Linked DNA regions of Homo sapiens. The protein of the gene in region 1 purifies or fractionates together with the protein of each later gene. This does not show direct contact. Each region holds a gene or a part of one and is shown on either strand. Other genes may lie near its edges.

The links.
Region 2: the proteins of ARHGAP21 (region 1) and PRR36 purify together in Homo sapiens (affinity purification with mass spectrometry; 2 studies listed by BioGRID and IntAct, with this or other methods). This does not show direct contact.

The regions. Positions count from the first base shown.
Region 1 is NC_000010.11:24,582,186-24,588,718, reverse strand, and holds the end of ARHGAP21 (rho GTPase-activating protein 21), read left to right. Parts: intron 1-2,612; coding exon 2,613-4,307; 3' UTR 4,308-5,105; downstream 5,106-6,533. UniProt on the Homo sapiens protein: Functions as a GTPase-activating protein (GAP) for RHOA and CDC42. Downstream partner of ARF1 which may control Golgi apparatus structure and function. Also required for CTNNA1 recruitment to adherens junctions.
Region 2 is NC_000019.10:7,870,561-7,880,221, reverse strand, and holds the start of PRR36 (proline-rich protein 36), read left to right. Parts: upstream 1-5,831; 5' UTR 5,832-5,936; intron 5,937-6,525; 5' UTR 6,526-6,532; coding exon 6,533-6,803; intron 6,804-6,922; coding exon 6,923-7,025; intron 7,026-7,260; coding exon 7,261-7,373; intron 7,374-7,465; coding exon 7,466-9,661.

The DNA.
Region 1 (6,533 bases):
ACAACTTTTTGAGTAGTTTGTGGGACATTTATAGTTCTTAGAAAGTTTTTTGTCAAGTCAGTGGATCTAAATTTTGCACTGTTGAGGCAGTAGCAACTGGAATTGTCAGACTTCTTAAAACATTGTTATATTTTGTAATGAGACATGAATTTTACATATCATGTTTAAATATCATAACAGGACTCCATATGATTAAATTATAATTCTTACAAAAATGCTTTATCATGTCTCTATTACTTGTGATGTTTATCTTTTTGCCCAGCTTTTTATCTTGAAAAATGTTAAACCTACAGAAAAGCTGCTAAAATAATAGCACCCAAATCCTTTACCCTAAAGCTGCTAAAATAATAGCACCCAAATCCTTTACCCTAGATTCATCAATTGTAAATTCACACTTTTGTTCTGAATCATTTGATAGTTACTTGTAGAGATAACACTACTCCTAAATACTTCAGCATGTATCACCAGAGAACTGGGGCATTCTCCTATATAATTACAGTGTAATTTTCATACTCAGGAAACTGAGGTAAGTACAACACATTATTATCTAATGTGCAGTTTTTATACAGATTGTCCCAGTAATATTCTTTACTTCCTTATACAGAATGCAGTCAAGGATCATTCCTTGCATTTCTTTGTCAAATCTCTTTAGACTTCTTTAATCTAGAACAGTTTCCTTAACTCTGTTGCCAGCAGATGAGATTTTAAACCAGAGAGACCTGTTTGAAATCCCTGCTTTTCCCTTCTCTAGATGCATTTTTCTTAACCTGTTATTACAGTAGCCTTTTCATCTTATCCATAGTGGTGTTATGCTATGCCTGTAATATAGTGGATATCCCAATGACATGATTAACTACTTCTAACAAACAGTCTCTGTAGAAAAGTAGAGTAATTTGCCTCAACACATATATGATCATAGAATTGTAAAGAGAACCTTAAGGAAATCTGAAAGACAGTATAATCTAATTGCTTCTCGCCACGGAACTGAGATGTTTAAAAGTGAATCCCTTGCTCGTACCCAGCAAGCTAGAGAGGATGGACATCAAGGTCTCCCAATTGAGAGCCCAGTCACAACCATTATCCCCTACAGTCTTCAGCACAATGTGGGGAAATGTAAATAACCATTAGAAATGTGCTGGATAATTATGAAAGTCTTTATAACTTGTAAAAACAAAGTTCTGTTCATCTGTGATTTCATCTTAGCGAATTTTTGATAGAACAGCCTAAATTCTTTGATAGAACAGCCTAAATTTTTACTTTAAGACTTTAAATAGAGCAGTTTTAACTTGTCTAAGATTTGCAGGCAATAGAGAAATATACTGTCTGTTTCTATTACTCAGCATACCTCCTGCCTACCTGCTTGTCTTAAAAAGTGTGTGGTAAACCAGCAGATATTTAGGAAGAAACTAATAGTTGCAATCAAGAACCTATTATATCTAGATGCAGTGGCTCATGCCTGTAAATCCTGGCACTTTGGGAGGCTGAGGTGGGAGGATAGCTTGAGACTAAGGCTTCTAGACCAGCCTGGGCAACATGGTGAAACTCCATCTTAAAAAATTTTTTTTAAAAGAACCTATTATACATAGCAAATAACTTTCCCAATAACACTGCACTACAGTGTTTCTGTGGTAAGGATTTAATTGTACTTATGTTAATTGATCTTTCCTTTCTACCTTCCTGGGGTGGGTTCTCACTCTGTCACCCAGGCTGGAGTGCAATGGTACCCTCATGCTCACTGCAGCCTTGACTTCCCCAGGCTCAGGTGATCCTCTGACCTCGGCCTCCCAAGTAGCCAGGACCACAGGTGCGTGCCACCATGCCCACTTAATTTTTTGTAGAGACAGGCCTTCACCATGTTCCCTAGGCTGATCTCGAACTTCTGGGCTCGAGCAATCTGCCCGCCTCAGCCTCCCAAAGTGCTGGGATTACAGGCATGAGCCACCACACCTGGCCTGTTTTTTGAATATTCTAATTCCATTGTTACCTTGAGATAAATGAAGACATTACCAACCTGATTTACTTAAGGCAGATCCTTGAAGATCCTGCCTGAATGAACTAATGGAAGACCAGAGTTCCCTTATCTCAATGAGCTTATCTGATACAGTATCTATATCATGTGGTACCTGTAATTAGAAAAATCAAAGTCAGTCATAAACATTTAATAACCTATATCAGAATGTGATGTTTAATAACCTATATCAGAATATGATGTTTGACCGTGTCACAATATTGTTTTACCTATCCCATGCCTCTATTCCAAATGAAGGAAGTGAAGAATGCCTGGGCACTGTGGAAGGAGGGAAGGTCAGGTGTTTGGGGGATTTTGATAGGAATCAGCACTAAGCACAGACTATTTTCCTGAAAGGCAGATGTGTATGAGCTGTGGCTTGGCAGTTAAATACCACGAGGCAAGAAATTGGACTCATTAAATAAAAATTTGACTTTGGTTCAAGGTAAAAAGAGGTATTAAAAAAAAAGCTAATTGCACTGTTAATGCTTCCAGAGCTTTAGTAGATATAATTTGATAAGAAATATTTGGGAGACAAGCTTGTCAGAAAATGAACTCAGCTGCATTCTTATGCTCAGAGTCTTTCTTCTCTCTTGCTTCCCAGGGTTCTTGGGGATCTGGAAAGGATCAGTATAGCAGGGAACTGCTTGTGTCCTCCATCTTTGCAGCTGCTAGTCGCAAGAGGAAGAAGCCGAAAGAAAAAGCACAGCCTAGCAGCTCAGAAGATGAACTGGACAATGTATTTTTTAAGAAAGAAAATGTGGAACAGTGTCACAATGATACTAAAGAGGAGTCCAAAAAAGAAAGTGAGACACTGGGCAGAAAACAGAAGATCATCATTGCCAAAGAAAACAGCACTAGGAAAGACCCCAGCACGACAAAAGATGAAAAGATATCACTAGGAAAAGAGAGCACGCCTTCTGAAGAACCCTCACCACCACACAACTCAAAACACAACAAGTCACCAACTCTCAGCTGTCGCTTTGCCATCCTGAAAGAGAGCCCCAGGTCACTTCTGGCACAGAAGTCCTCCCACCTTGAAGAGACAGGCTCTGACTCTGGCACTTTGCTCAGCACGTCTTCCCAGGCCTCCCTGGCAAGGTTTTCCATGAAGAAATCAACCAGTCCAGAAACGAAACATAGCGAGTTTTTGGCCAACGTCAGCACCATCACCTCAGATTATTCCACCACATCGTCTGCTACATACTTGACTAGCCTGGACTCCAGTCGACTGAGCCCTGAGGTGCAATCCGTGGCAGAGAGCAAGGGGGACGAGGCAGATGACGAGAGAAGCGAACTCATCAGTGAAGGGCGGCCTGTGGAAACCGACAGCGAGAGCGAGTTTCCCGTGTTCCCCACAGCCTTGACTTCAGAGAGGCTTTTCCGAGGAAAACTGCAAGAAGTGACTAAGAGCAGCCGGAGAAATTCTGAAGGAAGTGAATTAAGTTGCACCGAGGGAAGTTTAACATCAAGTTTAGATAGCCGGAGACAGCTCTTCAGTTCCCATAAACTCATCGAATGTGATACTCTTTCCAGGAAAAAATCAGCTAGATTCAAGTCAGATAGTGGAAGTCTAGGAGATGCCAAGAATGAGAAAGAAGCACCTTCGTTAACTAAAGTGTTTGATGTTATGAAAAAAGGAAAGTCAACTGGGAGTTTACTGACACCCACCAGAGGCGAATCCGAAAAACAGGAACCCACATGGAAAACGAAAATAGCAGATCGGTTAAAACTGAGACCCAGAGCCCCTGCGGATGACATGTTTGGAGTAGGGAATCACAAAGTGAATGCCGAGACTGCTAAAAGGAAAAGCATCCGGCGCAGACATACACTAGGAGGGCACAGAGATGCTACCGAAATCAGCGTTTTGAATTTTTGGAAAGTGCATGAGCAGAGCGGGGAGAGAGAATCTGAACTTTCAGCTGTAAACCGGTTAAAACCAAAATGCTCAGCCCAGGACCTTTCCATCTCAGACTGGCTGGCCAGGGAACGCCTACGCACCAGTACCTCTGACCTTAGCAGAGGAGAAATCGGAGATCCCCAGACAGAGAACCCAAGCACACGAGAAATAGCCACGACCGACACACCTTTGTCTCTTCATTGCAACACAGGCAGTTCTTCCAGCACCTTGGCTTCAACAAACAGGCCCCTTCTTTCCATACCACCACAGTCACCTGACCAAATAAACGGAGAAAGCTTCCAGAACGTGAGCAAAAATGCTAGTTCTGCAGCGAATGCCCAACCTCATAAACTGTCTGAAACCCCAGGCAGTAAAGCAGAGTTTCATCCCTGTCTTTAAACTGGGGGTATGTCCACTCTAGCAAGTAAAAAAACTACTGTTACACGTTCCAGTAACTCTGTCAATATTTTCTTGTATCAGAATTGTTATTATGCAGCCTTCATTTGGGCTGGTTTCATCATTTTGCACTGTGAAATAGCTTTACAGTGCATTACTACAGCCAGAAGAACATATATATATATATATATATTTAAAAATATATCGGATAGTTGTATACAAATGAGCAAGGTATTTGTTGCAACTTACTACATAGCATATACCCAAAATCACTGAAGAAAATCGCTGGCATCAGTGTGCAGCAAATTTGTTCTTTTGGTTTCATCACTAACAAAAGTGCCTCATCATAAAAATACAGTTGGTTTTTAGGGTGCCATATTGTTAAAATTAGATAACTTACTTACATTGAATAAACGAATGCGTTTTATTGGTAACAGATATCATTACATTTACCAGTTTTAACACAGGTGGATACAGAACTTCCATTCTTTAGTCATTCCAGGTGGATCTGAGTTTTATATTCAAACTTTTAATACAGTTTTTGAGTTTTGTGTGACTTGAATTTTTAATCTTTCTGTAAAATACGTAACTTAAATGAACATATTAAATGTGTATCTTTTCTTCAGATACCAGATTTGATATAATGTTGTAACATAGGTGTGTAGATAGTGGATCCTGGATGGAACTGGCTTCTTTATCGAGAAGAATATAATTCTGCATGAGGACTTAATGAATCCAAACCTGTGTCATGCCTGTGTGCATACCCAATTAAACACTGGAAATAAAAATTGTTTTGGTGAATTTTGCATGGCTTGAAACTTATTCTGATATATTTTTAGATGTCATCCATTTATAACTACCTTACATGATTAATTGGTCCTGACTTTAAAAAGGTGCCTACTATATTTATACATTCCATCTTCTCCTCTTTCTTGCTGTGGTGGGTAGAGACTCTTTCTTACAGATGCTTACATTAGCCTAACCTCACTTGTTGACTGATAGTGTTTAACTCTTCTAGGTAAAGTAATGTATGTTATGTTAATGTTCTTTTCGTGAGTGAAACGAACATGAGTTTGGAGTCAGTCCAGCTCTACCTAGGTATGTGAACTTGAACACATTATTTAACTTCTCTGAATTTGTTTTCTCATATAAACAGTTAGTTACAGTAACACTACCTATTATAAGGGTGATTAGATTTAAATGAGATACTGTTCCACTTACAGTGCCTGCCACACACTAGTTTCAAAATAGAACAAAGCTATTGTTGGAAGTAATGGTTACAAAAAAATCTCAGACTGTTAAGGCTGAGAAGGACCTTAACAGTCATCAAATCCAGAGATTGTCAACTGTCAAACATGATACTTTCTTAAAAGTATTTTGAGATTTCCCCTTTACCATCATGAAATTCATAATATATCTAAATATAACTTTACATTGAGTATGTTATGATATAGACCATAATCCCCTATTATAAAAGAAAAATGAAAGTGATTTATAATAAAATAAATTTTTCAATATGCAAATGCTCAGGTACAACTACATCATGAAAATAATATAATGGAATAGTCAGATGTTTGCTCCAGTATATAGAGTCACTAACAATGGTAACTACACATGGAGATGGTACCATGAATAGTTTGCTGCTGGCGATGAGATTTTACTAGGAGTCATGCTCTGCTTTTAAAGTTTTGAACAAAACAAAGCACACACTTCCCTTAGTTTACATGAGGGGGAGTTCTTGCAGTGTATTATTAAAAGTGTCAAAAACACTTTTTACTTATATGTTTTAAAAGTTACTTTCAAGGCTCAAATAGTTTTATATTATTTGTTCTTGCTCCTCATTTTTTCTATATTTTTTTTTCTTTTGAGAGAGAGTCTCACTATCAGTCTATTGCCCAGGCTGGAGTACAGTGGTACGATCATCACAGTTCACTGCAGAGCTGCGACTGACAGGCACATGCCACCATGCCCAGCTAACTTTTTTTTTTTTGTATTTTTTGTAGAGATGGGCTTTCTCCATGTTGCCCAGGCTCATCTCAAACTCCGAGGCTCAAAGCGATCCGCCCGCCTTGGCCTCCCAAAGTACTGGGATTACCGGCATGAGTCACCACGCCCAACCTTTCTTTGGCTATAATTTGCTCGACTTTTTAATTTCTTGAGACGATTGCTTGGAAAATTGATTTTTAGTTGTTTTCTAATATCTTCATTTTAAGGCTATATGCTGTATTT
Region 2 (9,661 bases), on another chromosome or scaffold:
AGGGGGAAGAGTGTGTGTCTGCGGGAGAAAGAGGAGAATCGCCCAAGCGGCCTCGGAAGCCCCAGGGAGTGGAGGCTCCCGCCGTGGAGCCATGTGGTGTATGTGTGGTAACACCACGTCTACGCCCCTCTCACTGATGCTGCCGCGGTGTCTGGAGCTGAGCGGGAAACAGCCGCGGTTAGTTTTTTATATGGACTTGGAGACACAGGGCACAGCTGGGCTGACGCCCTCTCCACCGTCCGGCTCCCTCACGTCAATTCCATCTGTCCCCATGTGCCTAGGATCCCTGTGACTCTCAACATGAAGATGGTGACACCTTCCTGATTTGACCTGATGGGGCTGAGTCCAGATGCCCCAGAGGACGAGGCTGGCATCAAGAAGGCAGCAGAGAACATCAAGGCCTTGATTGAGCATGAAATGAAGAACGGGATCCCTGCCAATCGAATCGTCCTGGGAGGCTTTTCACAGGGCGGGGCCCTGTCCCTCTACACGGCCCTCACCTGCCCCCACCCGCTGGCTGGTATCGTAGCATCGAGCTGCTGGCTGCCTCTGCACCGGGCCTTCCCCCAGGCAGCTAAAGGCAGTGGCAAGGGCCTGACCATCCTCCAGTGCCATGGGGAGCTGGACCCCATGGTGCCCGTACGGTTTGGGACCCTGACGGCTGTTGTCACACCTGCCAGGGTCCAGTTCAAGACATACTCGGGTGTCATGCACAGCTGCTGTCCTCAGGAGATGGCAGCTGTGAAGGAATTTCTTGGAGAAGTTGCTGCCTTCTGTCTAACTAGTCGCTGGCCCCAGTGCGGTGCCCCAGCTCATGGGGGACTCAGCAAGCAAGCGTGGCACCATCTTGGATCTGAGCCAGTCGAGCCCCTGTCCCCACCCTTCCTGGCCTGTCCTTTTCCCACAGGCCTCTGGGGCAGGTGGCAAGGCCTGGCCGGGCTTTCCTTCCTGGCCTCAGCCACCTGGCTCTGTCTGCAGCAGGGGCAGGCTGCTTTCTTATCCCATTTCCCTGGAGGCAGGCCTCCCTGGCAGCAGTATTGGAGGGGCTACAGGAAGCTAGAGAAAGGGGCCCAGCTGCTGACCCACTCACTCAGGACCTCACTCACTAGCCCCGCTTTGGGGCCCCTCCTGTGACCTCAGGGTTTGGCCCATGGGGCCCTTCCAGGCCCCTGCTCTAACTGATTCTGCCCAGATAATCGTGTGTCTCCTGCCTCCACTCAGCTACTTCTCAGTCATGAAGGTGGCCATGGCCCTGAGGTCCCCTTGCTGCTGTGGGCTCCCTGTCCCTGGGCAGGAGTGCTGGTGAGGAGGTGGAGCCTTTTGAGGGGGGCCTTCCCTCAGCTGTTTCCCCAAACTGGGGGGCTGGGCCCTGCCTCCCCATTACCCTCCTTCCCTGCAGGCCTGGAGCCTGTAGGGCTGGACTGAGGTTCAGGTCTCCCCCAAGCTGTCTCACTCTGACTTTGTCCCCACTCTAGAGCAGGGAAGGGGTGGGGGAGGAGTTGTGTCTCATCTTCTGTCTCCATGTGGTTTTTGGGTGCTTTTCTTGTTGTGTCCTGGATTCTGATAAAATTAAAGAAATTGCTTCCTCAAAAAAAAAAAAAAATATATATATATATATATATGCCCAGGTGCAGTGGCTCACGCCTGTAATCCCAGCACTTTGGGAGGCCGAGGTGGGTGGATCACCTGAAGTCAGGAGTTCGAGACCATCCTGACCAACATGGAGAAACCCCATCCCTACTAAAACTACAAAATTAGCCGGGCATGGTGGCGCATGCCTGTAATCCCAGCTACTCAGGAGGCTGAGGCAGGAGAATCGCTTGAACCTGGGAGGCAGAGGTTGCGGTGAGCTGATATCGCACCATTGCACTCCAGCCTGGGCAACAAGAGTGAAACTCCGCCTCAAAAATAAATTAATTAATTAAAAATTAGGGCCAAGATCACGCCATTGCACTCCAGCCTGGGTGACAGAGTGAGACTCTGTCTCAAAAAAAAAATATATATATATATGTATATATGTATATATATGTATATATGCGTATACACGTATATATGTATATATGCGTATACACGTATATATGTATATATGTATATATGCGTATACACGTATATATGTATATATGTATATATGCGTATATACGTATATATGTATATATGTATATATGCGTATATACGTATATATGTATATATGTATATATGCGTATATACGTATATATGTATATATGTATATATGCGTATATACGTATATATGTATATATGTATATATATGTATATATGTATATATATACACACACACATATACATATATATTTGTGATTTATTTATTTTTCTTTTAGAGACGGGGTCTCCTTATATTTCCCTAGCTGGCCTCAAACTCCCGGCCTCAAGGGGATCCTCCTGTCTTAGCCTCCCCAGTAGCTGGGACTACAGTCGCCTGGCCCTCACCTGAGAGTCACATGCCTAAGAGTGGCTACGCTGGGCAGTTCATTCAATGTCCCTCCCCCACCTGTTCCAAGCAACCACTGATGTGCTGTCTGTAACTACAGATTAGTCGCATTTTCTGGAATGTTCTATAAATGGAATCATACAGTGCGTGTTTTTTGTAGCTTCTTTTGTTCGGTGTGCTTTTGAGATTAGTCCCTGTTTTGAGAGTAGCATAGTCTGTTCCTTTCTGTTGCCAAGTTTCATTCCATTGTAGGGGACACTTTGATTCATGTTACTCATCCCTCTTGTTGATGGAGGTTTTGGGAGTGTTTTTATAAGAGGGCAGAGTCCAGATCCCAATTAATTACAGGGTGGGTTTTGTGTACCCTGGAGGAACCCTTGCATCATAGTCAGAAGGCAGGTGAAGCTGAGTGAGGTGGCTCCTGCCTGTAATCCCAGCAGTTTTGGAGGCTGAGGTGGGAGAATCACTTGAGCCCAGGAGTTCAAGACCAGCCTGGGTAACAGCGAGACTCTGTTTCTACAAAAAATTTAAAAATTAGCCTGATATGGTGGGGTAGGCTTTAGTCCCAGCTACTTGTTTTTTTGTTGTTGTTTTTGTTTTTGTTTGTTTTTTTGAGATGGAGTCTTGCTCTGTCGCCCAGGCTGGAATGCAATGGCGTGATCTCGGCTCACTGCACCCTCTGCCTCCCAGGTTCAAGCGATTCTCCTACCTCAGCCTCCCGAGTAGTTGGGATTACAGGTGCATGGCCACCATGCCCGGCTAATTTGTGTATTTTTAGTAGAGATGAGGTTTCACCATGTTGGCCAGGCTGGTCTCGAACTCCTGACCTCAAGTGATCTGGGTTTTGTTTTTTATTTTTATTTTTTATTTTTTATTATTTTGAGATGGAGTCTCTCTGTCACCCAGGCTGGAGTGCAGTGGCATGATCTCGGCTCACTGCAACTTCCGCCTCCTGGGTTCAAGCGATTCTCGCGCCTCAGCCTTCCAAGTAGCTGGGACTATAGGCACCACACCCAGCTAATTTTTTTGTATTTTTAGTAGAGACAGAGTTTCACCCTGTTGACTAGGCTGGTCTTGAACTCTTGTCTTCAAATTATCCACCCGCCTCGGCTGATAGTCCCAGCTACTTGGGAGGCTGAGGTGGGAGGATCACTGGAGCCTGGGAGGTCGAGGCTGCAGTGAGCTGTGAAGCTGTGATGATCGTGCCACTGCACTTCAGCCTGGGTGACAGAGTGAGATCCTGTCTCAAAAATAAATAAATAGGAGGGCAGGGATCTGTGTTGGTGGATGTGATTTGGAAGGAGGCACTGGGTGTGGGTGGGTAGACAGGGAACCAGGCTGGTGTCATGCCACAAGGGGTTCACACGGGTGATCATTGCTAGACTGAGGGAGAAGATAAGGCCTAGGATGATCCAATCTGGAGGTCAAAGCATGGCATTCAGCTCTGTCATTTTTCTCTGCCTTCCATTTCTGCAACCTCAAATGGGCGCAACGTCCCTACCCCCCAACCCCAGTTCACCCGATGCCAAGTTGCATTATCTGTTTCCTGTGCATGGAGGCCCCCTGATTTCCAGGAGGGAGTGAACTGTGCATATGAGCTTGCGATGGGGTTAGCAGTGGGGCACAGGGCGCTGGTTTCCTGGAATGGGGTAAAAAGTGGCTGTAAGTCTGGAGGGATGCGACATCCAGGCGGAAAGCTCATGGAGGCCATATGAGGAGGGGACTTGGCCGACAGAGGTGACAAGGCCAGACTCTTTTTTTGTGCATGTGTGACAGAGTCTTGCACTGTCGCCCAGGCTGGAATACAGTGGCACGATTTCGGCTCACTGCAAGCTCTGCCTCCTGGGTTCACGCCATTCTCAGCCATACTCAGGCCATACTCAGCCTCCCGAGTAGCTGGGACTACAGGCGCCCACCACCACGCCCGTTTAATTTTTTGTATTTTTAGTAGAGACAAGGTTTCACCGTGTTAGCCAGGATGGTCTCGATCTCCTGACTTTGTGATCCGCCCACCTCGGCCTCCCAAAGTACTGGGATTACAGGCCTGAGCCACCATGCCCGGCCCAGACTCTTCTTATAAGGAGAGGGAGCTGAGGAATGGCCATTTCCACCCTCAGGCTCCCACCCTCTTCATGCCACAGTCCTGGAGCACCGCTCTCCACCGAGGCCCCTGCCCTGGCTGAAGTCAGCAACAGGACACCTCCCACTCGCTCCGGCTGGGCTGGGACCCTTGTAAAGGATCTTCTGCGTCCTTCATGAACTTGTGTTTTTGTTTTTTTGTTTGTTTTTGTTTTTGAGACAGAGTCTCACTCTGTCGCCCAGGCTGAAGTGCAGTGGCGCAATCTCGGCTCACTGTAACCTCCGCCTCCCGGGTTCAAGCGATTCTCCTGCCTCAGCCTCTCGAGTAGCTGGGATTACAGGTGCTCGCCAGCATGCCCGGCTAATTTTTGTATTTTTTGGTAGAGACAGGGTTTCGCCATGTTGGCCAGACTGGTCTCGAACTCCTGAGCTCAAGTGATCCGCCCGCCTCAGCCTCCCAAAGCAGTGGGATTACAGGTGTGAGCCACCGCGCCCGGCCTTATGCACTTGTTTTGACACCTGCTAGGTCGACAGAACCTTGTCCCCCGGAAGCCCAGCTCTGCCAGGAAGTCTGGGCTGACTTGACATCCCGTTAGCTGGGAGGGTGTGGAGGGTGGGCGTGCTCTACCCTGCAGACGGCTGGGTCACCTCTCACAGAATATACTGTGTCTCCTGTCGCTCTCCCTCCTATTCCTTTCTTTATCTTCCCCAAAATCTGGGGTCTACCTTGCATCCTGAAATTCCCAGGGCAGCATTCTCTTAGCAGTCCCTCGACCCCCCAACCAGATAAGGGGTTTCCTGGCGTCTGGGGAACACCTTCGGGTGTGGGGCGGAGGGCGGCTGCCCCCCAGAGACCCTGGGCGGCCTAGCTTTCGCAGACGCGAAGGACTGGATAGTGCCAGGGCCACCGAGCGGCCGGATTGGTGTGTGGGCCAGAGGCGCGGTGGTCCCGCCTCCTGGTTGCCAGGGCCCAGCCTATCCGCGTCCAGGCGGTCCTTGGTGCCAGGTGGTTGTGGTGGGGGTCGGGGCAGGTGTATGTGTTGGGAAGGACAGTGGAGGACCCCAGGGATTTGCTCCCCCAGTCCCAACCGTTGACTATCTGGGTTCCTCAGGCGCAGCTGGGGAAACAGGCTTCCCCCGGACCGCAGAGAAGCCACCCTTCTCTCCAAAGCGCGCTTCTCCCCCATCCCCCTCGGCGCGCTTCCGCCGGCCGCGCTCCCGGGTCCGGATCGAGCGCGCGCCCCCGGCTCTCCCGCCCGCGGCCGAGGGGCGGGACCGGCTCGGCTCCCCCGGCGCCGCAGCCCGCAGCCCCCTCCCCTCGCCTCCTCGCCGCTGGCGGCCACCGCGTCGCTCCGGCCCGGGCCCCACCCCAGGCGACTCTGTGAGGAGCGGCCGGAGGCCGGAGGCGGAGGTGAGCGCGACGCGAGCAGGTGGAGAGGCTGGGCGCGGGCCAGGCCCGGCTGGGGGAGGGGTCGGGCCCGGGACGCGGCTCTTTGTCTCCCGGAGCCCGTTCGCGGGCAGCGGGGCCGCTCTGCCTCCCGGCAGGTGCAGGCATCCCTCGGGGAGGCCAGGGGAGGCCGATGGGGGCTGGCGGGGAGACCCGGGCGTGCGCTCCGGGTCTGGAGGGATGCGACATCCTGAGCCCGTGGCAGTCCCCCGCTCTCGAGGCTGGCGGTCTGAGTCCCTGAAGGGGCAAGGGGCAGGGGCGTGGAGATCGGTCCTGAATTGGAGCCGAGGCGGGGGAGGCGGTGGGCTGGGGCGGGCAGGGCCTCTTCGCTTTAGGGAAAAGCGGTGGGGGGTGGGACTTGGGGACAGCGAGGAGCAGTGGGGCTGGCGAGTGGGTGTAGGTGCGTGGGAGCCGAGCGGATGGAAGCCGAGGCCGAGGTTTGAGTGTCCATGGGTGGCGATGCTGCGAAAGGGCAGTGAGGTAGCAGGGTCCAGGTCTCTGGAGGCGGCGTAGCTGTCCAGAACCTGGGATGCGGACCGGTTTGTCTCTTCAGGTGCAAGATGGACAACAAGAGAGACAAGGCGAAGGCAGGGGCCGCCGCGCGGACGCCGGCTGCTCGCGCTCCTGGACTTCTGACCCCCAGGCCCCCAGGCTCTCCTCGACCCCCTCCCCCAGTAACTCCCGCAGCCCTCCGAGTTCTGGGAGCTGCGGGAGCAGTGGGGCGAAAGCCTCTGGCAGAGCGAGCGGGGGGCATCGGCGGGGCCACTATTCCCGAGTCTGCTCCCCGAGCGGGACCAACGCGGAGTGCTGGGACAAGTTCCCGAAACCCTGGTACCCCAGCCTCCTTCCTCAGCTCCGCCCCCATCTTCCCTCCCCCTTCCAATACCTGTCCAGTCTCACCTCCACTGCCACCTCTCCGGGGCACCTGTGACTCGGCCTTCTCCCCGCAGCCTCCAGGCCCCCAGCCTCTGGGAGAGGGGAGAGAGCTCCTCCTGCCAAGAACACCAGCCCAGGCCCTGTTTCTAGCCCAGGGCGTGCCAGCGGGACCACCAGGTAACCTGCTCCCTCTCCCCCAGTCTCCTAAGCCAGGGTTAGCGTCACAGAGTCTGGAACCTTTTATTTTACACGAGTTGGGGCGCGGGAGCACTTGCAGGTCACTGGGCACAAATTGGGTGAAAGCCATTATTGGTCCTCAGAGAGGGCACATGCCCATTTCACAGATGGGAAAATAGAGACTTGGGAAGCCAAACAAAGACCTAGGCCTGAGCGTGGCCCCTTCTGTCTCCAGGCCAGGCCCTCTTGGCCAGAAGGGACTCCGGATCTCAGCGGAGGAAACTGTGGCCAGAGGAAAAGCTACAGAGGCTCCCAAAAGGAGTGCCCTCAGCGCTGGGGCACGGAGAGGTACGTGACCTGGAGAAGAGTGGGGTTCCTGGGCAGCAAGGGGAGCCGCCTCAGAGGTATCGGTGACCCTTGGCCTTCTACTTTTTCTCCAGACACTTCCGGGCCTACCCCAGGAACCCCGTCCCCGGCCATGGCCCGTCGGTCCCGGGCTGCGGGCACCGAGGTGGGGCTCCCCCGGCCAGCTCCGAGTGCCCGGCCACGGCCCCCGACAGAGGGCCCCCGGAAATCAGTGAGCAGCGCCTCGGAGCACAGTACCACCGAGCCAAGCCCGGCTGCCAGGAGGCGGCCCAGCGCCGGTGGGGGTCTCCAGAGGCCGGCCTCGCGCTCCCTGAGCTCCAGCGCCACCCCTCTCTCCTCCCCAGCCCGTTCTGGGCCCTCAGCCCGCGGAACACCCAGGGCTCCTGCGCATCCCTCGCAGCCCAAGCCGAAAGGACTGCAGGCTCTGCGACCCCCTCAGGTCACACCCCCAAGGAAGGACGCAGCCCCAGCACTAGGACCGCTTTCTTCCTCTCCTTTGGCCACACCCTCTCCATCGGGTACCAAGGCAAGACCCGTACCGCCTCCCGACAATGCAGCCACTCCCCTGCCAGCCACGCTCCCTCCCTCTCCACCGGTAACGCCCCCTCCGCCAGCCGCTCTCCAAAGTCAGGCCCCGCCCACCCTGCCGGCCACGCCCCACTCGTCGAGCCTTACCTGTCAGTTGGCCACGCCCCTTCCTCTAGCCCCTCCTTCTCCCTCTGCTCCACCTTCTCTGCAGACCCTCCCCTCTCCACCAGCCACGCCCCCCTCGCAAGTTCCACCCACACAGCTGATTATGTCCTTTCCAGAAGCAGGCGTCTCTTCCCTGGCCACAGCCGCTTTTGTGGCTTCAGTCTCTCCATCAGTTTCATCCCCTCTGCAGAGTATGCCCCCCACCCAAGCTAATCCAGCGTTGCCCTCTCTTCCGACTCTCCTCTCTCCCTTGGCCACACCTCCTCTGTCAGCCATGTCTCCTCTACAAGGCCCTGTTTCTCCGGCAACATCTCTGGGGAATTCGGCTTTTCCCCTGGCCGCACTCCCTCAGCCAGGCCTTTCTGCTCTGACCACGCCCCCTCCGCAGGCCAGTCCTTCCCCGTCTCCGCCCTCTCTCCAGGCCACGCCCCACACTCTGGCCACTCTTCCTCTGCAGGACTCTCCTCTTCTGGCCACATTGCCTCTGCAGGCCTCTCCCTCTCCTTTGACCACAGTCTCTCTGCAGGATCCTCCTCTAGTTTCTCCCTCTCTTTTGGCCTCACCGCCTCTGCAGGCTCCGCCCCACCCACAGGCCCCACCTTCTATGACTACGCCCCCTATGCAGGCCCCGCCCTCTCTCCAGACCATTCCCCCAATACAGGTCCCACATTCTCTGACCTCACCGTCTCTGCAGGCACCTCCCTCTCCTCTGGCTTTGTCCTCTCTGCAGGCCACAACTTCTTTGGGCTCACCCACTCTGCAGGCCACACATTCTTTCCTGACAATGTCCCCTAGGCAAACCCAAGCTTCTTTGATCTCACCTTCTCGGCCGGCCTCTACTCCCCCTGATTCACCCCCTCTGCAGGCCCCTCTTTCCCTTCCTGCCTCACCCCCTCTGCAGACTTCTCTCTCTCCTGCTGTCTCACCCCTAAGCTCACCCCTGACCATACACCCTCTGCAGGCGCTATCTTCTCTGGCCTCCCACTCTCCTCAGGCACCTCTCTCTTCCCTGATCATGCCCCCTCTGGAGACCCAATCTTCCCTAGCCCCACCCTCTCTGCAGACACCTCCTGCTTCCCTGACCACACCCCCTCTGGAGAACCTACCTTCTCTAGCCCCGCCTCCTCTGCAGACAGCTTCTGCTCCCCTGACCACACCCCCTCTGGAGAACCTACCTTCTCTAGCCCCGCCTCCTCTGCAGACAGCTTCTGCTCCCCTGACCACACCCCATCTGGAGACTCCACCTTGTCCAGCCCCATGCCCTCTGCAAGCACCACCTTCGCCATTGACCACGCCCCCTCCGGAGACGCCCTCTTCCATAGCCACGCCTCCTCCACAGGCCCCACCTGCTCTGGCCTCACCCCCTTTGCAGGGCCTGCCCTCTCCCCCTCTGTCTCCTTTGGCCACGCCCCCTCCACAGGCCCCACCTGCCCTGGCCTTGCCTCCTCTGCAGGCCCCTCCCTCTCCCCCTGCCTCACCCCCTCTGTCTCCTTTGGCCACACCCTCTCCACAGGCCCCAAATGCTCTGGCAGTGCACCTTCTGCAGGCCCCTTTCTCTCCCCCTCCCTCACCCCCAG